Linked DNA regions of Homo sapiens. The protein of the gene in region 2 interacts with the protein of the main gene of each other region in a biochemical or structural test. Each region holds a gene or a part of one and is shown on either strand. Other genes may lie near its edges.

What was found.
Region 1: the proteins of ATP7B (region 2) and ZBTB16 form a complex in vitro, tested with the Homo sapiens proteins (one study listed by BioGRID).
Region 3: the proteins of ATP7B (region 2) and ATOX1 form a complex in vitro, tested with the Homo sapiens proteins (3 studies listed by BioGRID and IntAct).

Annotation. Positions count from the first base shown.
Region 1 is NC_000011.10:114,055,304-114,062,773, reverse strand, and holds the start of ZBTB16 (zinc finger and BTB domain-containing protein 16), read right to left. Parts: upstream 3,064-7,470; 5' UTR 2,892-3,063; exon of another isoform or gene 2,632-2,891; intron 2,533-2,631; exon of another isoform or gene 2,480-2,532; intron 2,268-2,479; exon of another isoform or gene 2,190-2,267; intron 1-2,189. UniProt on the Homo sapiens protein: Acts as a transcriptional repressor. Transcriptional repression may be mediated through recruitment of histone deacetylases to target promoters. May play a role in myeloid maturation and in the development and/or maintenance of other differentiated tissues.
Region 2 is NC_000013.11:52,008,386-52,015,545, reverse strand, and holds the start of ATP7B (copper-transporting ATPase 2), read left to right. Parts: upstream 1-4,095; 5' UTR 4,096-4,208; coding exon 4,209-4,259; intron 4,260-7,160. Other genes in the region: ALG11 (GDP-Man:Man(3)GlcNAc(2)-PP-Dol alpha-1,2-mannosyltransferase), read right to left, coding at 3,084-3,127. UniProt on the Homo sapiens protein: Copper ion transmembrane transporter involved in the export of copper out of the cells. It is involved in copper homeostasis in the liver, where it ensures the efflux of copper from hepatocytes into the bile in response to copper overload.
Region 3 is NC_000005.10:151,755,621-151,763,711, reverse strand, and holds the start of ATOX1 (copper transport protein ATOX1), read left to right. Parts: upstream 1-5,080; 5' UTR 5,081-5,160; coding exon 5,161-5,166; intron 5,167-5,351; exon of another isoform or gene 5,352-5,423; intron 5,424-6,640; exon of another isoform or gene 6,641-6,774; intron 6,775-8,091. UniProt on the Homo sapiens protein: Binds and deliver cytosolic copper to the copper ATPase proteins. May be important in cellular antioxidant defense.

The DNA.
Region 1 (7,470 bases), on a different chromosome or scaffold from region 2:
AAGCCTTATCTTTAAACAGTTTTTCCAAACTCTGCCTCACTACAGGAGCCCCAGAAGCAGAGTCAAACTCATTGGAGGCCAGGAGCCTGTAGCCATGGCCACAGAAATCTATGGACACTGGGCTCTCCTCCGCAAAGGCTATCCTCTCACCATCAGCCTTGGCCTCTGGCCTTCTACTGTTCTCAGGGCTGCAAAGCACTGGCAGACCCAAGGCCTGTCCCCATCCCTAGGTACTAACAGGAACACACACAACCCACACACTAACTTGGGTCATTTCTACCCACGGAAGCCTCAAAGTTATTGTATGTATAATATAAAATCTGAACTGTGTGTATGTACACCAGCCAGAGACAGACAGAAAGAGTGTGTGGGGCAGGGCGCGGTGGCTCACGCCTCTAATCCCAGCACTTTGGGAGGCCCAGGCAGGCGGATCACCTGAGGTCGGGAGTTCGAGACCAGCCTGACCAACATGGAGAAGCCCCGTCTCTACAAAAAATACAAAATTAGCCAGGCGCGGTGGCACCCGCCTGTAATCCCAGCTACTCGGGAGGCTGAGGCAGGAGAATCACTTGAAACCGGGAGGCGGAGGTTGCCGTGAGCCGAGATTGTGCCACTGCACTCCAGCCTGGGCAACAGGAGCAAAACTCCGTCTCAGAAAAAAAAAAAAAAGTGTGTGTGTGTTTACACACACACACTTACGTAAGGTGTCGTACCTACCCTCCTGCCCACAACTGCCCGGTGGACAGGAGGATCTAAAAAACGAAGAAGGATGGGTCATTAAGGTATGGAGAGAGACCATAGTTAAATATGGTCCCCTACAGCCAGGAGTGCTCATGCTGGGCTGGGTGTGTGAACTCCACGTGTGTCCCACAGGCTCCAAGGAGTCTGCAAGTCCTGTGACCAGGGGCAGCAAGGGATGCTGGACATGGCTCAGAGGCGCTGGAAGTGATATTGGCACCAGCACCTGTGGTGTGAGTTACAACCAGTACGAAGGGAAGACAGGGCTGGGAAACAAAGGCCTCTCCCAGAGCCTGTTCGGGATCAATAAGAGGGCTCCTAGACTCCAAACCTCGCTTACAGGAGTGTTAGAAAGACCGCGCAGGCCCAGGACCCTCCCCGTGTCTGTCTTACAGCGACCAATATTGCAGTGAATGCACTGAGAGCAAGGAACAGCAAGGTCTCTCCCTCACTCTTCGAACACTGCTTGCTTGCCTCCACCCCCAGAAGGAGCTCTATCAGTTCAGGAGCCACCAAGCTCACGCAGAAAGGATTCACAGGACGGCTGGTCAAGACATTTTTGCTGCCCGCCCCGGGGTGGGGACGGAGGCCGTCAAGGTTGGGATGAGCATTCAGCCGAGCCGAGCCACCGCGTGCTTTCCCGCAGACATCGGGGTTTCTGAGAACTAGGAGGGAACAGCCAAAAGAATGGAAGCTTGGCGCCCTGAAACAAGCCTTTTGGGTCCTGAGGGAAATCTGGGCGCCCACGGGCAGCCGTCTCCCCCACCCGCCGCTCGGCGCCCGCGATCCGGCTGGCGCTGGCTGCAGCGTCCAGCCAGGCGGCGCGGGGAAGAGCCGGCGATAACCCGCCCGAGCTCCGGGGATCGACCGCGCTCTCACACCCCCCCAGTTCCCAGCGACCCCCACCGAGACTTGGAGACGACTTCAGCAAACTTGGGGAAGCAACTTTTCCCGAGGAGCTAGACTCCTGAAAGAAGGAGAGCTGAGCTAGGGACGAGGGAAAGCGAAAGAGACGGGGAGGAACGGCGACAGTCCGGGCGGGCTGGACTCCGCGGCGAGAGCGGCAGGGGAGGCGGACCCGCCCCGCGGCGAAGGGGAAGCACAAAAGCCCCGCAGCGAGTTGTGGGAGGAAAGGCGAGAAGGGGTCTGCCCGCCCTCCCTCTCCGACCCAGGGCCGTGACCCCCTGGGAGCGACCGGCTGGGTCCCAGGCCTCTGGCCAGCGGCGCCAGCGGCCAGCGCGCCCGGCCCAAGCACGGTGCGAGCGTCTCGGGGAGGCGGCGAGCGAGTCGGTGCGGAGCGCTCCGTGCGTCCGGGTGGTTCCGCGGGCCGGCGGGACCGTGCGCATTTCAAGCGCGTGCGGGAGTGTGCGAGGCGCTGTGCGAGCTAGCGGCGGGCGCGCCAGGGTGGGAAAGGCATCCCGAACGCATCAGGTGCAGAGACCGGCACCCACCGAGAGCGGCCGGGAGCGCACGGCGAGCTCCGGTGTCACCGCCGGTCCCGCCGAGAGCCGAGGAGGGCCCGCAGCGCTGCAGACCCTCTGGAGCTTCCCTCCCTCCCCTGCAAAAGGGGGGTGGGGATCAAGTCCAATCAAGAAAAAGCCCACCACGTTTTCTCAAAGAGAAACAAAACGTAAGCAGTCCCAGTCCTGCTCCCCTCCGCCCCCAGATCTACTCGTCAGCTCCTCCGATTCTAGCTTCCCAGCCGGCCGGCGAATAAACACACAAATAAATAAACCACAACCTTATCTTGCGCCCGCGCACCGGTCCGCATACATAAGAGCACCCACGGGCTCTGTTGCTCCGCCAGCCCCTGGCGGTACAAAGCCTCCGGATCCCCGACCCCTCTGCTCACGCCCTCAGCCCCCGCACACCGCTACGCCCCCCACCTCTCACCCCGACCGTGCCCTGAAGAGGAAGGGCTGGGGAGGCAGCTGCGCCCAGGCTGACAGCCGGGGCTCCCCCTTCTAGCCGACCCCCAACCGGTGGCGGCGACGGCTGCAGCGGCAGGAAGGGAACACGCCAAATAAAAAAGGCACAAGCCCAGCGGCCGAGTGGCCGAAGCGAGCGCGCGCCCCCCAGACCTCTCCAGCCCCGGGAAGCCCCGGCGCGCGGCGCTCGCTGGGCGGTGCGCCTCTTCCCGGCCCCTCACTCACCGCAGCCGAGCCGGGCACTGTGGGGTGGGTGTGCGTGCCTGTCGGGGGGTGTGTGCCTGTGTCGGGGAGGGGTGTTGCTGGGGAACTGTTGCTCTCCGTATCACGGCGGCAGCGACAGCATCGCCCGGCAGTTCGCAGTACCCGCTCTCATCGCCCTCAACTCCTCTCTGCTGCGAGGTTAGCAAATCACCACCGGCTGCTGCGCCTCCGCCGCGTCCCACGTCAACGCCGAGCCCCCTCCCCTGCAAGGCCCCGGCGCCTCTCCATCTTTAGTGCTGGCGGCCGAGCCCGGCTCCCTGCCCACAGCTGCCCCCCTTCCCTCCCCCCTCCCGCGCCGTCCCCGGGCTCAGCCCGCCCACCACCCCGCACTGGCCGAGCCCGCGCGCGCTCCCCGCCCCACCCCTCCTTTCCCCTCCCCTCCCTTCCCCTCCCTTCCCCGCGCTCCGCGCTCCGGGCTTCGCCTGACATCTAGCTGCTGCTGGGGCGCCGGCGGCCGCCTCTCACCGGCCGAGCGGAGAGGAAGGAAGGAGCCAGAGGACAGGAGTGCATGGGGACTCAGAATCCTTAATAGGGGAACTGAGGGTGAAGGGCGCGCAGCAGCCCCCACCTACTCCCAAGATTTTAATTTGCACTGGATACGGGTTTTGTCCCCCCCTCCCCGCACCCCGGTGCTCAAGCACGCAGTTTTGTCTCCTCTTCCAATGTTTGCCCCAATTCAGTGCGTGTCATCTCGCCTTTAACTTTTTTCTCATGGCTCGGGGCTGCAGTCCCCCTGACATCTGTTTTAAAAGGCCGCTTTCCTAGCCCAAACCCGGCCCTCTCATCCTCCTGGTTACTGCGCGCCTCCCGGCTTGAGCATCCGGATTTCAATAAGTCTCCCGAGGCAGAGTTCGCGGGCGCTAGTGAACCAGGTGCCAGAAGGTCCGCGGGGATCTATTGTCGAAGCGAGACACCCGTTTTTAGCTGTCGCGATTGCTGGAGGCCAAGGTCGAGTCCTGGGAGAAACTTTTCTCTCTCCCAAACCTTGGACAGCCTCTCGGCTCTGCCCTCATCCTACCCCCCCGCCCCCCAGCAATCTGGGTGGAAACAGTTCCCGAGAACTGCGCCCAGCTCAGTGCACAGTCTTCAGGGGGCAGGGGGAAGCTTGGACAACCTCTGGGCCCCTCAAAAGTGTGTCCTCCTTCAGCTGGCCGCCCTACTTCAGAGGGTAGAGCAGCCAAAGAAAATGTACTCTTCCTCTGACTGCAGAAAGCTGCCCTCTCCCCTTTTCCCTGGAGCTGAGCGAAGGTAGGGTGCCAGAGGCGGGAAGCGCTCTTCGGGCACGGGCTGTGGATTCTGACCGAAGCCCAGGAGGTTGGGGTGGGAGGTGGGGGTGGCCGAGAGCGCCATCCAGGGTTCTCAGGCCAGTCAGCCCTCGAGGTCACGCGGTTTTAGCAATGCGGAGCTTATGTCACCAAGGCCTGAGTCTGCATGTTCTGTCCGTGACTCACGGGTGGGCCAGAGGTTTTCCGCAGGACTCACCTAGAATCACACCTCCATGCGTGCCTCTGGCACTGCCCCAGACCCAGTCCCATGAACTGTAGGGTCATGGAAGGTGGCAGAAATCTGTATCTGTTCGCTGAAGGCCAGGCGGTAGAGTTTACACATCGGAACTGATCCGGGTTCACAAGAGCCGCTCATGAGGCAGCCCCAAAGACGGGTCATTCCATCCCAGCAAGAGCCACTCCTGACTCTTAAGAGCAGGGAAAGCTCAGCCCAGCAGGAGTCTGCGGAGAGAGCTGGGCAGGGGAACACACTTGAGTGAAGGAAGGGCTCCTCTGATAGCACGGGATACAACCACATCAAACCCAGGGCAAGCGGAGGGGAAGCCCAGTCCCTGGGTATTCATTTCATTAACAATAAAGAGCAATCCCATTTAGAGACTACCTGTTTTTCTAACTAAGGTCTATACACCCTGTTAGAGGAAAGGGATTTAAAGAAAGTTAGGAAAGAACTGGGCTGCAAGGAGAGCAAGAGTGGAGGGATGTAAGGAGAGGAGAAAAGACCCTCCTGGTGCCTCACCAGGGAAACAGAAGAAAGAATCACTACACTTGTTGAGCTTCTGCCTAGATAGTGCCTGCTGGAGGTTTCCGCTTTGCTGTCCACATCCACCTACCAGCCTCTCCTCAGTGCAGTAGCAGGAGAAGCACACAATTAACCCCTGATCCTAATCTCCTATTAATCCTCAAATCAGAGAAAGAGAGAATCTCTGGAAACAATGGGAGAGAAAGCACAATCCTCTATGGCCCTGGCCTCCCCACCCCCGTGCCATATTCACTCTATGTGAAAATCTCCCTTGCTTCATAAACGCTGCCCATTAAAAGCCCAGCCCTTGTTAGTAAGTGTTAAAGAGAGATTAATGCCTGAATTTAAGAGGTGGAGAAGGTAACAAAAAGGAAGAAGGCAGGCGAGGCTGTGGGCTGAATGCCAGCATTGGGCTCCAAGCATTTCCACTTAGCGCTGAAGGCTGGCTGCACAGCAGTTTGATAAGGTTTATTGGGCCCAGATAAAGCAGCAGCAGCTCCCCCACCAAAACTGGCACCATTTATAGCCAGAGCTATGTCCTTGGGTCCTGGGAAGGCTGATGAGAATCCTCAGTTCAGAGATTTCATATGGCAGCACCTAAAAACAAGCAGGATGGAAAATTACAAGAGAATACTCAATCTCTCTCGCGCGCACATGCCCGCTCTCTTTCTGTCTCTCTCATGTTCGTGTATTTAGAGTGATTTTTCTTTTACATTTTTTCTTGAAGCGTCTTTTAAGGGAAACCTGGGTATCAGTTCTAAAAATACAGGAGATCTCAATCTTAGGGGGAGATCATGCTAGAGACAGAGGAATAGATGAGCTGGCCTTTGCATGGAATTCCATTGCTAAATCTTACTCCCTCATCTCCCTCTTTACCCATGTACCTCCCACCACTGGCAGCCTTTCAGAGCTCAGTTAGTGGAACAGGAGGGTATAGCAGTTCTAAGAGATCATACAGGAAGGAGACAGCGAAAATAATAACTCATTCTGAGCACTGACTACGAAACTCAACACATTACCTATGTTGTTTTATTTAATCCACATAACAATCCTATTAATGCAGGTGCTATTATTTTCCCAATTTCTGTGGACATGAAAACTGAGGTTCAGAGAGATTAAGTGCCTTACTGCAGACTGTAGATCTATTAAACATCAGAGCTGAAACTTTAAATCAGACCATTCTGACTGCAAAGCTCATGCTCTTAACTTCTAGATTATGTAGCCTCTAGTGAAATAGATGAAGGAAGCAAGGGCTTTTAATTTTCCTTCTTCTCTTACTCTGCTGAGGCCAAGATCTGTGCAGCAGCCAGCCAAGCTGAGGACCAAATGGTTCTCAGCTTGGTCACCAGGTAAAGAGACTTAGATCCCCCAGGATCTTACACTTTTCCTCCTCCCTCAGAATCTCAGGCAGAAATTGGGGAGGGGGCTTTGAATTACAAAAAAAAACTTCAACTAAAGAGATAGGAAGAAGAATACAGTGGTGTTTTGAGTATCTGAGTATGAATGGAATGTTGCAACTCTTTAAGTTCCAACTCTTAATTTGGAACATATATTTAATTTTTTTATTTCAAAGTAAACTTTTCTATCGTGATTAAAAAAATCAAAGATCCCTACCTTTTGGGGAGAAGATGCCACTTTGCATTTCCCCAAAAACTTGTGATGAGTGGAAAATGAAGCATGTTCAGGGAGAGATGCAGGTAGTGACGCCCCTGAGTAGAGGAAAAGTATTCTCTGCAGTTGAGAACTCCAGATTGCCACTGGGGAACGTACCAGGGCATCAGACCTTTACCCTGCCAGGGACTGTTAGGGGAAGACACCGCAAGCCTATTGTGTCCATTTCTGGAGTCAAAAAATCTTACAGTCTTACAGTCCTTCAGATCATCATTCCAGACATCTACTATAGAGCTGTAGGTGATGTCAACAATTGGGCAGAGTAGGCTGGGCGCAGTGGCTCATGCCTGTACTCCCAGCACTTTAGGAGGCCGAGGCAGGCGGATCACTTGAGGTCAGGAGTTTGAGACCAGCCTGGCCAACATGGTGAAACCCTATCTCTACTAAAAATACAAAAATTAGCCAGGCGTGGTGGCACGTGCCTGTAATACCAGCTACTTAGGGGGCTGAGGCGGGAGAATCGCTTGAACCTGGGAGGTGGTGGCTGCAGTGAGCTGAGATTGCACCACTGCCCTCCAGCCTGGGTGACAGAACAAGATCTCATTTCAAAAAAAAAAAAAAATTAGGCAGAGTGGAATTTACTCCTGCATATGTTGACATTTTGTTTTTGTTTTTAAATTTTAATTCTTTTACATTATGTCCTTAGATGCCCCCTCCAAAAAGCAGAGGGGGAAAGAATCAGGTGATGTATGCATTCCGGTTAGTTGAGGCTCAGCAAACCAAATAAGACAGCTTCTTTGATTAGTGATTGCCATCATCCCTCATCCCCCACCCCACCACTACCACCACCATCACCGCCCCAACCAACAGAGACCTGGTTAGTGGTGTTTACAAACTTGAGTTT
Region 2 (7,160 bases):
CCACAACATGTGGGCATTCTGGGAGATAAAATTCAACTTGAGGTTTGGGTGGGGTCACGGCCAAACCATATCACATAGTTTTCACTGCCCACATGAAAACATACAAATTCATCAGAAAAGTAAATTTTGCTTTTTTTAGATACAGGGTCTCACTCTGTCACCCAGGCTGAAGTGCAGTGGTGCAATCATAGCAATCACTGCAGCCCCAAACTCCTTGGCTCAAGCGATCCTCCTGCCTCAGACTCCTGAGAAGCTGGAACTACAGGTGCATGCCACCACACCCAGCTAATTAAAAAAATGTTTTTTGTAGAAATAGGGTTTTGCTATGTTGCCCAGGCTGGTCTCAAACTCTTGGCCTCAAGTAATCCTCCTGCCTTGGCCTTCCAAAGCATTGAGATTACAGGCATGAGCTGCTGCACCTGGCCAGAAGTAAATATTTTATTGATATTTAGTTTTGACATAAAGTTCTCATGTGGGATTTCCTATTGTGAACAAATCCTCATTTGTTCCTATTGTGAACAAATCTCATGTGGGATTTCCTACTGTGTACTTGAAGAGGTATTTGACTCTATTTGAAATCCCACATGAGCACTTTATTTCAAAGCTGAAATAATTGGTCTAAAATAATTTGGTCTTTATATTCTTTATACACCTTTATACTCTTAAAAATTTTACTGAGGATACAATAGAGCTTTTGTTTACATCAGAGTTTCTCATCCTTGACACTACTGACATTTTGGACCAAATAATTATTTGTTGCGGAGGTTGTCCTATGTATTATATTTAGTAGCATCTTTGGTCTTGACCCACTTAGATGCCAGTAGCACCCTCCCAATCAAAATTATCAGTTGGGCATGGTGGCTCATGCCTGTAATCCCAACATTTTGGGAGGCTGAGGTGGGAGGATTGCTTGAGCCCAGGAGTTCAAGGCTGTAGTAAGCTATGATCATGCCACTGCACTCCAGCCTGGGCAACAGAGCAAGACTCTTATCTCTAAAAAAAAAATTAAAAAAAAAAAGCCCTCCAGATATTGCCAAATGCCAAATGTCTTGCGAAGGGCAAAAATCACCCCTGGTTGAGAACCAGTGGTTTACACTGCTTATATCTACCAATATTTAGCATATTAGAAATGAAAACTAAAGAACTTTAAACTTTTTATGAATTCATTTGAAAATAAAAATTCTTTCATAACACATTAACATATTTTTATTAAAAAACTATCTTTTCCAAACCAAAAAAAGAAATTTAGCAAGAAGGGTGCCAATGATTTACACTTTTTGCAAATCTTTTTAATGTCTGGCTTAACGTGAAACCAGATAGTGGCTCCTCCTTTCTGTTTCTGCATTCAATCTAGTGATATGTTGTTTTTGTTGAAGTATATGAAGAAAATTCAGGCTAACTTAGACATGTAGTAGGAAAAGGGAGTATATTTTAATATATATTGATCTTATGTTTAAAATATATTTAACTTTTCAGCTAGTTACAGATATTCTTCTCTGATGCTAGACCACATTTGACAAGTTATGCAGTTTCTTAATGTCAGTTGCAATACAGACTCTGAAACCCTATCAATGACCTTTTCACACTGTTAATTAAAATCCACTATCACTTAGTTTTATCCGCTATCACTTTTGCACTTATCAACATAGTAAAATAGGCAAATATTACATTAATGTTATTATAAAAACAGATTTGTTGAGGATCCATTGAAGGGCCTTGGGACCTGCATGGTCCATGGAGCACAATTTGAGAACCACTGCCTTAAAGGATGAACAGAGTCTGACAAAAGTGGTAAGATTTATCATTTATTTAACATTTGGAATATATGAATTCATAAAAGCAACACTACAGAGGACAGTTTGCTTTCTCAGGACACTCTTTCAAAAGCTTATTTAAAATGCAGCTGACCCATATAATGTAAAGGTTTTTCTGGCAATTCCTTCAAATAATTTAGGTGGGAAAATTCATGTGACAAGCTTTTCAAACTGAACTATTAAACATTTAACTTAAAAGCTGCATAATAACTAAAGTTAAACCTGTCCTTTAAGTCTGGTTAGTGAGTTTATTTAAACATTATAATGTAAAGCACTGAGGAATATTACGTATGACAGGGAAGAACCAAAAGGCTCTGATAACAGACTTTCTCATTCAAAATGTTTAAAGTAATGATTACAGAATTTGAAGTAGAGTGGACAAAAACGAAGAAGAAATGCCTGAACTTTTGAAAGAATTAGGTATATACTGCTATTCAGGAAGCTATGGTGTTAATTATAAATTTTCAGCCTGAACAAAAATATGTAGGTGGTAAAAAAACTAGGTAGGTAGAATATACTAGGCCTTCTGTTTTATTAGTGGAGGGCAAGGCATTTAAAATACAGTAGTACTACAACAACAAAGGTGGAAAAAAGCCTGGGAGTTTTTTCACCAAAATGTTAACAGTGGCTATCTCCGGATGGTAGCATTCCTGGGGTTTTTTCCTTTTACTTATCTATTTTCTAATTTTTCTAGAAGAAACAGCATATACACGTAATACAAATAAAATAATATTTTATGTAACTTCTTACATCATAAAAATTAAAGTAACAGATTATCAAAAAGCAGAGGATTCAACATAAGCTTTATATTTAAGTGACGTGTTAACAATGGCAGTTTTGGTGAGTTTAAGAGTAGAAACTAAGATGAGAAGGAAGATCCGGTTTCTTCTTTACCGAAAAGAGACATGATAGATTGGAAAATGTCTCGTGGCTCAATCGTAAAGAAAAATAAGGAATGAATATGAATAATTTATGACAGACTAACTGGAGTGTGAAAGGGAAAAAAAAAGCTGAAGCAGGGAAGGGAACTCGACCCCTCGGCCAACAGTGAAGCAGAAGAAAACGCGGTAAATTGAGTCTTTAAGACCTAGTCTATTCCAGTCTATATAGAAGACCCCCAAGAAAAAGAAAGACTGCTCATTGGCCTGAGAAATTACCTTAGATTCATGACAAGGAAGGCCATTTGCCCGCAAAATTTAGCTACACTGGACGGGCAAGTACCCCTACAGAAGAGAAAACGTCTGTGAGCCCACACGACCGGCTGCTCACCTCAACAACTTGCACAGGCACCAGCTCCTTTCGCCGGCCGCCATCTTCCGCCGACCCCCGAACTCAGGAAACGCTTCACTTTCCTTTTCCCTATTGGCTCCTGAGAAAGCAAGCCGTGCTCGCCCCGCCCCCACGGGCCAATTGTGCGTTACTATTGGTTACTGGTAGCCGCTTCCCACGGCCTTCCAGCCAATAGAATATGCCGAGGCGTAGACTAGTGTTCGGCGTGGCGCACACGGCTCCCGCCCCCGTGGGCGGGACAGCAGTGGGGGGTTGGGCTGAGGAGGGCGTGGCCTGTGATTGACAGCCGTCGCTCCCTCCCTCGGCCACCTCCCCCACTAGAAGCCCCCGCCTGGGCGCCTGCGCCCCCGTTCCCGGCCCAAAGCCCGCCGCCCGTTGGAGGCCATTGGCTGGCCTTTGCGCACAGCGGATCGATTTTCCAGGTGCGGAGTTCACTCTTGCCGCGGTTGCTTCCTTTGGGACCCACGGCGTCCGGCAGCCAGGCGCAGAGTCCGAGGAGGGGGCAGCGCAGAGCGGACCCGACGCGGCGCCGCCGGGCACCTTCCCCGCAGGCGGTGGGTGAGCCCTGGGAGCTGAGTCTGCGGCCCGGCTCTGCGCAGCTCACCTGCCCTCCCGCTCCCGCACACGCGTGAGATCCCAGTACAGTGTCGGAGCGCACCAGCGCGAGGTGGCCGAGACCGCGGAGGAGGACAGGCCTCCGCCCTGCGGCGCCGGCACGGCAGAGGACATTGTGGCACTGGCACGGCAGAGAACACTGTGGCACCGGCGGGGCCGGCAGTTCCAGGGTGGGCACTCCCAGCCACCTGGGGAGTGGGCGAGGGTCCGAGGCCCACTCTCCCCTCACGCTCTCATCCCCGTGCCCCCAGGTCGGGAGGACGGCGGCGCGCAACTTTGAATCATCCGTGTGAAGAGGGCTGCGGCTTCCCCGGTCCCAAATGAAGGGGCGGTTCCCGGACCCCTGTTTGCTTTAGAGCCGAGCCGCGCCGATGCCCTCACACTCTGCGCCTCCTCTCCCGGGACTTTAACACCCCGCTCTCCTCCACCGACCAGGTGACCTTTTGCTCTGAGCCAGATCAGAGAAGAATTCGGTGTCCGTGCGGGACGATGCCTGAGCAGGAGAGACAGATCACAGCCAGAGAAGGGGCCAGTCGGAAAGTGAGTTTTGTTCCCCCGCGTCCGCGCAGCGTGCTCACTCCCACCAGGAGGATTTTCCTCCCCGCGTTCGGCGCTTACTCGCCCCCAGGGGGTGCGCAGGGAAGGCCGAGCCAGACCCCAGCTCCAGGGATGTCTTGGCGTGGGAGAAAAGGACCCTTTAGAAAAAGTGTGCCGTCAACTGATGTTTGGGAGCAATGGAAAACCCCGCACCTCAAAATTCATCTTTATGCTTTTAAGGGGTCTGATGCTGGAGAGATAAAGTGAGCGTCGAGTTGCTGTGCTAGAGCCCTAATGGCTCAAAACGATGAAGTTAGTTACCTGGAGAAGTTACTCAGAGCCTGGTGCTTGGACCAGATATGGTATATCGAGGTCCTGGAACTTTTATAACTGTTTTAAATTCATTTTAATTGTACAAGTAATACATTAAGACAGTCTTTTAAAAATGGAAACAGCACAGAAATATTTTGCACAAAAAGCAGATCTATTTTTCAGTCTTTTTCTATTCACGTACATATGTCTTCATTCGGCAAATATTTATTGAGAACTTTCTATGTTTCAGGCACACAGTGTTGAGTTGATACAGTGGTTAACAAGACATGTATCTATATGTAATATGCACACATTCAGAGAAATCTTTAGGTTTCATTTGTATGAGGTGTTAAAATTTTTGTTTTACCTAAATGAGATCACTGTATGTGCATTCTCTTTTTTCAGTTTAACGATATATCTTAGAGATTGTTTCACTAACTGTCTAATTCAGTGCAACCTCTGCACAGTTTGGACGCATCATAGTTTATTCATGGTTTCCTAGTGGTGGACGTTCTGTTTGCTACTTTTTTTCTCTCTCTCTTGCAAGTGAACATCTTTGTACATGATTTTTAATGCTGACACTATTTCTTTAGGATAGATACTTAGGCCTGGATTGCTGGACAGAACAGTAGGCTGTTTCTTTTCCACAGATTTCTGAAACTAATTCACTGACGTTGCTGGGTGCCCTTTAGTAGTGAATTCATCTAGGCTCCGGTGATACAGAAATGAAAACTAACGGATTAGTGGACAGACAGAGAGAGGCTGGTTAGTAGGTGGTTTGTAGGGTATGATGACTATGCATTTGATAGGAGTATGAAGAAATGTTGGGAGGGGTGGCTTGTACAGAGGAGATTTCAACTTCCTACAGTGTCCCCACCTAGAGAAAGAAATCATTATCCTTCCAAATCAAGCTCAAGACCTGCCACCTCCTTGAAACGTTCTGTAACTGCTCCTGCCCATGTTGACCTGTCTTCTGGAATCCTCTGATAATAGCGTTGACCAGCGTTATTGAGCTTACTGTGTGCTGGGCATTGTGTTAGGCACTCATATCCCTCTATGTGCACTCTCGCGTTTAATCCTCACAAAAACCCTTTGATGTAGGTATTATATCTTGTTATCAACATTTATTCAACAAATTTTTTTGTGTGTACTATGTGCTCAAACACATAGTACTCAAAGTTTTAGACACTGGGGATTTAGGTAGGACCGAGACCTTGCCCTCATGAATTTACATCCTAGTTGGAGATAGGAAAAAAAAAGGGATAAACAAATGTATAGCGTAGGAGTTAAGGGAAAACTTTTGTGCCCCGTGAAGCGTCACTGAAAAATCAACTGACAAATGGCAGATTAATAGGAGAGAAGGCATACACATTTACTAACGTGCCGTGAGAGTCTTACAACATAAGATCTCAAAGGAAGGCAAGGTGGTTGCCACAATTATACTATCCTGAGGTTACAGAAAGTGTGGGGGCTCTAAGCTTGGCCAAAAACAGGTTATGGTTGTAAATCAGGTTATAGGAGGGAGAGAAGAGGAGACCTGGCTAGCAAAGGTGGTCTTATGTAGATGAAACCTCACAGGTAGCAGCCCTCAGGGAGAAGAAATGTTTCAGACCTTGAAGGTGCCAAATTCAGCTAATCTCACCCAGATCCAGACAAGGAAGGGCCCTCTGAGAAAAACTGGCTGCGTCAATGGAGGTTCTCAACAGATGCTCATCTCCCTCACAGTAGGACTACTTTTGTCTGTAGGCCCTCTGAACGGCCATCTCAAAATATTTCCAATAAGTCTGTTTTGAGGTGAAATGTTTTAGTTTCCTTCAATAGCTTTATTTCAGGTACTAGTAAGTACTATGAAGAAAATAAAGCAGTTTGGGTCCAGGAGTTCAAGACCAGCCTGGCAGCATATCAAGACATCGTTTATACAAAAAAAAAAGAAAAATTAGCTGGGCATAATGGTGTGTGCCTGTCGAACCAGCTACTCGGGAGGCTGAGGCAGGAGGATGGCTTGAGCCCAGGAGTTTGAGGCTACAGTGAGTTGTGATCCCACCACTGCACTTCAGCCTGAGTGATAAAGCAAGATCCTGTCTCAAAAAAAAAGAAAAGAAAAGAAAGCAGAATAAGGGAATAAGATAGGGATTGACATGGGTGGAGAGGAAGATGCTGTTTTAAGTAGGTGGTCAGGGAATGATTTCTCTTGGAAGGTAGGATTTGAGTAGAGACCTGAATGATTCAGATTTCAGAGAAGTAGCCTAGGTTGAGAAACCATAAAGTGTGAGAGTCCTACGGCAGTCATGTGATAAGAAGAAATATATACTTGGTCTTGTCCCAAGTTCCTGACATAGAGCTTCTTAAACCGTTGTAATTTCCTGAGAGATGGTGATAAGAGCATCTTTTGTTATTCATAACAAGTCTCTTTCACCCCTACCTGAGTTTCTGTTAATGAGAGGGCTCTTGATAGGCCCCTAGATAGCTTCAGGATGGAGACTGATTGCCAGAAGAACCAACCATGTGATTAGGGGATTCGAATGTTCAGCCCCGTGCTCCAACCTCTGGAGATTGTGCCAATCACCAGTGGACAATGATCTAATCAGTGAT
Region 3 (8,091 bases), on a different chromosome or scaffold from region 2:
AAAAAAAAAGAAAAAAATTAGCTGGGCCTGGTGGCGCATGCCTGTAATCTTAGCTTCTCAGGACGCTGAGGCAGGAGAATAACTTGAACTCAGGAGATGGTAGTTGCAGTGAGCCAAGATCATGCCAATACACTCCAGCCTGAGCAACAGAGCAAGACTCCATCTCAAAAAAAAAAAAAAAAAAAAAAAGAAACTTTTCATACTGCTCACCACAGCACGATGAGCTACGTCTAATTATTATCTTTATTTTACAAGAGAAGAGACAGAGTCAGAGAGATTAAATGCCTGAAACAGCAAGGAACTGAACGCAGGTTTGTCTGGGTTGTCTCATTAAACACATCTTTAGAAACCTGAAGCCCCAGGGGTACAGAGAACAAAGGAGGAAGAGGAGAGCATGGCAGATGTTCCCTGACCATTGGCTGCTATGTTGGGAGTCCACTAAAGAGTGCTGGGGACTATGATGGCTTCTAAGATGATCACTGTCCCCTCACATGGCAGAAGGGCAAAAAAGGCTTACGGTACTCCCTTCAACATCTTTTATAAATTCTCTAATCCCTTCCATGAGGGTTCTTCCCTCATTACTTAATCACTTCCCAAAGGCCCCACTTCTTAATACTATCACATTGGCAATTAGGTTTCAACATACGAATTTTGGTGGGACACTTTCAGATCAGTGCCATTCTATATGGTGACTCTTCCTCAAACCAGGTGCTTGAGCAAAACCAATTTGCACAGAGCCACTCCTCCAGCTTCAACCCACTCAGCCAGTTATGGGCATATCACAGGAGAGATAAATCTTCGTCATTTTAAGCCATTGAGGCTTTGGGATTGTTTGTTACTACAATATTACTTGGCCTATCCTGTCAGTCATAGACATGTTTCCAGATCTTTCAGTTTTTCAGGAAATATTAAAACTCTAGGTTATGTGACTCAATGTTCTTTTTTTAAAACATTTACTGATAGTACGAAAACTTTTGGTCTTGCCTAAAAAATACAATGGAAATATTCTGAGGACTTTAACTGAATAGGTTTCACCCTTTTTATTATCATTATTATTATTGAGACAGAGTTTCGCTCTGTTGCCCAGGCTTGAGTGCAGTGGCGCGATCTCGGCTCACTGCAACCTCCACCTCCGGGGTTCAAGCGATTCTCCTGCCTCAGCCTCCCAAGTAGCTGGGACTACAGGCACCCACCACAATGCCCAGCTAATTTTTGTACTTTTAGTAGAGACGGGGTTTCGCCATGTTGGCCAGGTTGGTCTTGAACTCCTGACCTCAAGTAATCTGCCTGCCTCTGCCTCCCAAAGTGCTGGGATTACAGGCGTGAGCCACTGCACCCGCCCATCACCCTTTTTAAAAACTTATTTAGGCCAGGTGCGGTGGTTCACGCCTGTAATCCCAGCACTTTGAGAGGCCGAGGCAGGAGGATTGCTTATGAGAGCAACCTGATCAACATGCCAAGACCCCATCTCTACAAAAACATACAAAAAAATAGCTGGGTGTGGGGACATGCACCTGTGGTCCCAGCTACTCAGGAGGCTGAGGTCAGGGGATCCCTTGAGCCCAGGAGGTCACAGCTGCAGTGTGCCATGTTCACGCTACTGCACTCCAGCCTAGGTGACACAGCAAGACCCTGTCTCAAAAAATAAAAATTAAAAACTATTTAGAATTTTTATTTTTAAAAATGCTTTTCCTAGTCTTGTAATAAGAAAGCAACTAATTTTACATGTCAGTCTAGAAATAAATAAATTTATTTATTTATTTTTATTTTGAGACAGGGTCTTGCTCTGTCACACAGGCTGGAGTGTGGTGGCACGATCACGGCTCAGTGCAGCCTTGACCTCCTGGGCTCAAGTGATCTTCCCACCTCCGCCTCCCAAGTAGCTGGGACTACAGGTGCACAACACCATGTCCAACTAATTTTTAAATTTTTTGTAGAGACAAAATCTCGCTATATTGCCAGGCTGGACTTGAAGCAATTCTCCTGCCTGGGACTCCTAAAGTGTTGGGATTACAAGCATGAGCCACCATGCCCTATTTTTAATTGTGGTAAAACATACAGAACATAAAATTCCTCTTTCTAACCATTTTTAAGTGTATAATTCAGTGGCATTAAATATATTCACAATGTTGTACAAGCATACTCAGAGTTCTTAACTGTTGTCAACTAATCAAAAAATATTTTGAATACTTTAGGGACTGAATAAAATGTGTCTGTAGACCCAGTTCTGCCAGCATGTGGCTCTGCAGGACACCATGCTCCCTCTCCCAAGCCTGCAGTCCACGCTCCCTCAGCTTCCACTTCATAGCCCTTCTCTTCTCATGCATGCCTTGGCTGCTCTGAGGGCCCTTTCAGCTCAGAATCTTTGGTCCCAGATAAAGGGTCCGTTGGTGGATAAAGCAGTGAGGCAAGTGGTGTATACCTGTGTTATGATACAAAAAACAGACACTTGGTTTCCTGCGGTGGGGATATCGGGGAGCAGGCAGCAGCTACAAAACCTTTCTTTGCAAAGAATTAAACTCCTCAGCATCTGTCAAAGAAAGGGTCATCCCAGGAGGCTGGGTCTAGAAGTAGATTACACCAGGAAGAACCCACCATCTATACATGCCTACAGTGTGCACATTCCTATCCTTGCAACAACACTTTCAGCCAGAAAGCAGGGATTCTATATGCCCATTTCCCAGGCTCACTGGCTTAGTGATGGCTCATTGCCTGTAATCCCAGCACTTTGGGAGGCCAAAGTGGGCAGATCACGAGGTCAGGAATTCGAGACCAGCCTGGCCAACATGGTGAAACTCTGTCTCTACTAAAAATACTAAAAATACAAAAATTAGCCGGGCATGGTGGTGGGCGCCTATAATCCCAGCTACTTGGGAGGCTGAGGCAGGAGAGTTGCTTGAACCCAGGAGGCGGACGTTGCAGTGAGCCAAGATCACGTCACTGCACTCCAGCCTGGGCGACAGAGCAAGACTCCATCTCGGGGAAAAAAAAAAAAAAAGCTAAGAAAGAAAAGGGTTGATATGTACTATTAAGGAATAATCTTTTTTTTTTTTTTTTTTTAAATACAGGGTCATATTCTGTCACCCAGGCTGGAGTGCAGTGGTGTACTTATGGCTCAATGCAGCCTTGACCTCCTGAGCTCAAGTGATGCTCCCACCTCAGTCTCCTGAGTAGCTGGGACCACAGGCATATGCCACCACACCCGGCTAATTTTTGTATTTTTTGTAGAGCCAGGGTTTCACCATGTTTCTTAGTCTGGTCTCAAACTCCTGGGCTCAAGTGATCCTCCCACTTAGGCCTCTCAAAGCAATGCGATTACAGGTATGAGCCACTGCATCTGGCCCAGGAATAATCTCTAAGATATTTTATAAAGTGAGAAAAGCAGGATGCAAAACTGTGTATACTATGCCTTTTGTTTAAGAAGGAGAGGTCAGGGTAGGAGGAAGACCTACTTTTCACTGTACGCTACTTTGTGTTATTTGAAAATTAAACAGTAGGTACATTGGGATTCCACCTGCAAATCCTACACTTATCCAAGATAACTTCTAGTAACATTGGCTGTGGTTCATTTCATGCTTATTTTAATGTAAATACACGGAATGTATGTATATATTTATGCAGGAACTACAGTCTGGCATATTTTCTTCTCCTCTTTAATAGGTCTTTATTTGTGATCTTTAACAGATCTTTATAAAGCTGTCTTCTCTTTAAATTGCTGTCTCTAGGCTTAGCCATCCCCCCAACCCATACCCCTAATTCTCTAAAACATGCCGTGGGTGGTTCGCCCTGTGTACTGTTGCTTTGGGAAGGATTTCCTTCCCTCATGTCCACTCTCCGCCTTCCCTCATGGCAATCTAGCTATCCCTAGCCCCAGGGCACAGTTGTACCCAGGACTACCAAGATGCTAAGCCTTGCCCGTACAGGACCTAATGTGCCAGTACCCTCTTTCCCTCTCCTCCTCGCCCCCTTCCCTTCCATCTTTAGGGAATTCCTGGCAGGTTGGGTAGGGGATGAATGGTTAAGGGGTATTTTGTGAGCAGCGGAAGACCCAGTGCCAGGGAGGCCAACAGAGGGCCTAGCAATTAGAGAATACTTATATATATTTTTGGTGCCTACCATGTGCCAAGCAATGTATTAAGAAGTTTGCACACATTACATGTATTCCAACAATACTGCAAAGTAGGTTTCTTGGAGGGAACCATGTGTCGTTGTTTGCCTGAAACAGTCATGGTGTTTGCCTGTTGTCCTGGCAAAATTATTAATAGCATCTCCTTTCTCTAGCAAAAGGTTCAGATAAAAAATTGTATAGTGACCTTAACTGTCCCCATCTTATACGTGAGGATATTGAGGCTTAGAGAGGTAAGTTCATCTGCCCAGGGTCACATGGCTAATAAATGATAGGGCTGAGATTAAAACTCTAGTCAGTATGGCTCTGCTAGGGACTGAACTCTGACATGGACATGAATTGTGTCCCCGCAAATTCCTATGTTGATACCCTAACCCCCAATGCGACTGTATTTAGAGACAAAGCCTGTAACAGGGCGATAAAGGCTAACCGAGGTCCAGATTATTGCCTTCTCCCCAGGCCGCCTCTCTTCCACAACCGCCCCCACCCCACTGCAGTCAGGGCCCTTCCTCCTCTGTCACAACAGCTCTGCTAACCCTGCACTATCACTGCCTGCGTCCTTCGCAGCCTCCTGCTGCTGCTCTTCCACCGCTGCGTCCTCGTTGGCTGGCGCTTAATAAAAATTGACTCGGTGAATAAATGAGTGAAACTGTCCTTTTAGGGATGGATGGATGATGTCCTGTTCAAGGCGGTGCCCTTCTCTGGCATTCCCTAACACAAGCTTGACCCGAAGTAGGCGTTCTGAAAAAGGCCGACAGTCGATGGAGGCCAACGCAGCGCCCCTCTCACCTCCTCTCTCCGTCCAGGCCGGGTGACCACGGGCCCGGCCCGCAGAAAGGAGGCGGCGCGGCCGGCAGGGATCAGGACTGGAGGGGGCGGAGCCTCCCTCGCGGCCGGGCCCGGAGTGGGAGGGGCCTCCGGGACCAGGCCTCTAGTGCGCACTCTCGGAAGCGCAGCCGAACCCGCCCTCCGAATCCAGAGAGGCGCTGCTGACACCGCCGCCACACCGCCGCCACACCGCCGCTGCCTCAGTCATGCCGGTGAGTGGTTGCGCCGTCCCCGCCACGCAGACTTGCAGTCCCGGGTTGCTTCTCGGCTGCACAGCCGCTTGACCGGATGCTGATCTTGAAGGGCTCAGGCGGCGGCCGGAGCCGCTGTTGTCCCCTAGCTTACCCCACCCAGCCCCCAGCTTTTGCGACCCTTCAGAAAATGGGATCCGAAGGGAGTTTAATCTGGGAGCCAGGCTTCAAAACGTCGGAGCTGGAAGGCCTCCAGGGGCGACAAGCCCACACCTTCCCTGCGTACACAGAGAAACAGAACCAGAGAGGGGGCAGGGGATGGGGGAGTTGGTGGCCAGCGGGAACTGAGACGCCTAGTCCCTGAGCCTTCCTCCTGGCTGCCCTGCCCGCGGAGCTGGCCTGAAGGAGGGCGGTGGGGAGGCTCTGGACAAGGGAGTGGACCCGGTTATTTCCTCACGGACCGGGCAGGTTTTCAGAGGTTCATGCTTTTCTTAATTTCCCTGCCCACTCTGGCCTACTTTTCAGATCAACTCTGGGCGACACTGAATGGAGACACTTTCTCAGCCTGAACCCATGAGCCCCAGAGAGGTTCAGGAACCCCCCCGCACAGTCACCAGTTGCTCAGTGGCTGTGTCTGGGAAGTCAGTCTTAGCCTGCCTTTGCAGATCACTCAGTCTTATCACATATATTGTTGCTCGTGGCCTCGTTTTTTATATAAAGAATTGAGGCCTTTGGCAGATAAAAATATAAAAAGCCCAGTAACTTATTCCAGGTCGTGTTGAAGTTGGCAGAGCCAGGATTCAGCTCCTTATCCTTAGGCTCCCCATCTCTCCAGGCCTGACCACATGGGAGGTGCCAGGCAAAAGCAGTCACACCGGCTTGGGAAGATGCTCTGATCTCAGTTGCATCTTGGTTAGGGTCATGTGGTGTTTAGCATTTTCTTCAGGGTGCCTAATTCATGGCTCTGGGCCAGGTGGATACCCAGAGGTATCCCACAGTTGCCATGTGTCTTTGCATCCTGTCTTTAGGGAGCTGGCAGGTGAGCCTGAGGCCTCCTGGGCAGAGCCACTGACATCTCAGGTGTCATTTCCTGTGGGTCTTGCCAGGTGCCTTGAGACAAATCCTCCAACAACAAAGTATGGATAAGGAATCTGATAGAATCAGCCCTACCAGTTGGGCAAGTCAGCCTGTGGCAATGGTAGAAGACAGTATTAATTGCCCTGGGGCTTGGGGAGTGAAGGCCACCAGGATTTTTTGTGGGGGGTGGCAATGAGGAAAAGGCTAGCTTGATCATCACTGTATTCTGTATCTTCTGGGGATTTTGACAAAAAACCCTCTGGAGCAGATGATGGGAATGAGGAGGGCACTTGGCACCATGTACCACAAGATAACAGCTGAAGGAAAGAGGGTGTTAGTCAAGGGATTTCCTCAAAACTGGAAAGGGAAGAAAAAAATATATCTATATACACATACTGGAAGGGGAAGAGTGTGTTACCTGAGAGTTTTCTCAGACAAATGCCCGAGAGCACAGGGTTTGGAATCCCAGAAACCTCTGAAAATCTGTGCCCCAGCTTGCCAACTGGGTGACCTCAGGCAAGTTGCTTTATCTCACTGCCTTGATTTCCTCATCTGTAAGATAGGGACAAAAACTTTGACCTCACAGGACTGTTGTTAGTATTAACTGGAAAAATGCCAGTAAAATATGTCACACAGCCACTGATATATCTAGTCCCCAAGAAATGGTAGCTCCTGTGTAGACGTAGGACAGGTGGGCTAGAGCTATAGGCAGGTGAGGCCGGGCATGGTGGCTCACGCCTGTAATCCCAGCACTTTGGGAGGCCCAGGCGGGCAGATCACTTTAATGCAGGAGCTTGAGACCAACTTTGGCAACATGATGAAACCCTGGCTCTACAAAAAATACAAAAAATTAGCCAGACGTGGTGGCCCGTGCCTATAGTCCCAGCTACTTGGGAGGCTGAAGTGGGAGGATTGCTGGAGCCTGGGAGGTTGAGGCTGCAGTGAGCCGTGATCGTGCCACTGCATTCCAGCTTGGGTGACAGAGTGAAAGTGAAACCCTGTCTCAAAAGAAAAAAAAAAAAGGAAGGAAGGAGAGAGAAAGAAAAGAAAGAAAGAAAGAAGAGAAGAGAAGAGAAAACTATAGGCAGGCAGCTTTCAATCCCATTTTAACAAGATCTCAGTGGTTAAGCATTGAGGTTTTAGAGGCTGACTATGTTCAATTCAGGCCCTACTCAGCCGAATCACCGTGAGTGTGTGAACTAACCCCTAAATCTCAGTTTCCTCATCTGTCAAGAAGGGATAATAATAGGCCAGGTGCGGCGGGTAATGCCTGTAATCCCAGCACTTTGGGAGGCTAAGGCAGGCAGATCACAAAGTCAGGACTTTGAGACCAGCCTGGCCAACATGGTGAAACCCCGTCTCTACTAAATATACAAAAAAATTAGCCGGGCATGGTGGCGGACGCCTGTAGTCCCAGCTACTCGGGAGTCTGAGGCAGGAGAATCGCTTGAACCCAGGAGGCGGAGGTTGCAGTGAGCTGAGATCGTGCCACTGCACTGCAGCCTGGGTGACACTGTGAGACTCAGTCTCAAAAAAAAAAAAAAAAAAAAAGAATCATCCCACTTACTGACTTTAAAAACCTACTTTAAACCTACTGGCTTTTAAAATCTACCCATTTTATAAGTCTTTATAAAAGACCCCAGAGGCCATGAGGAACCAGAACTACCCAGTTATGCATCTGGTGGTAGAGCCAATCTTGAGATTCTCCTATAAAGAAGTGATTACTCTGTCCATGAAATAGATTTTCCATCACCCTCAAATTTATTTTTGCCCCTCAGAGGTGGAGGAGGAGAGCACTGAACTGTAATGTTTATACCCAGAAGCTGGTTTCTGGCTTCTGACCTTTATACTGTGGGGGATGGGACCTAC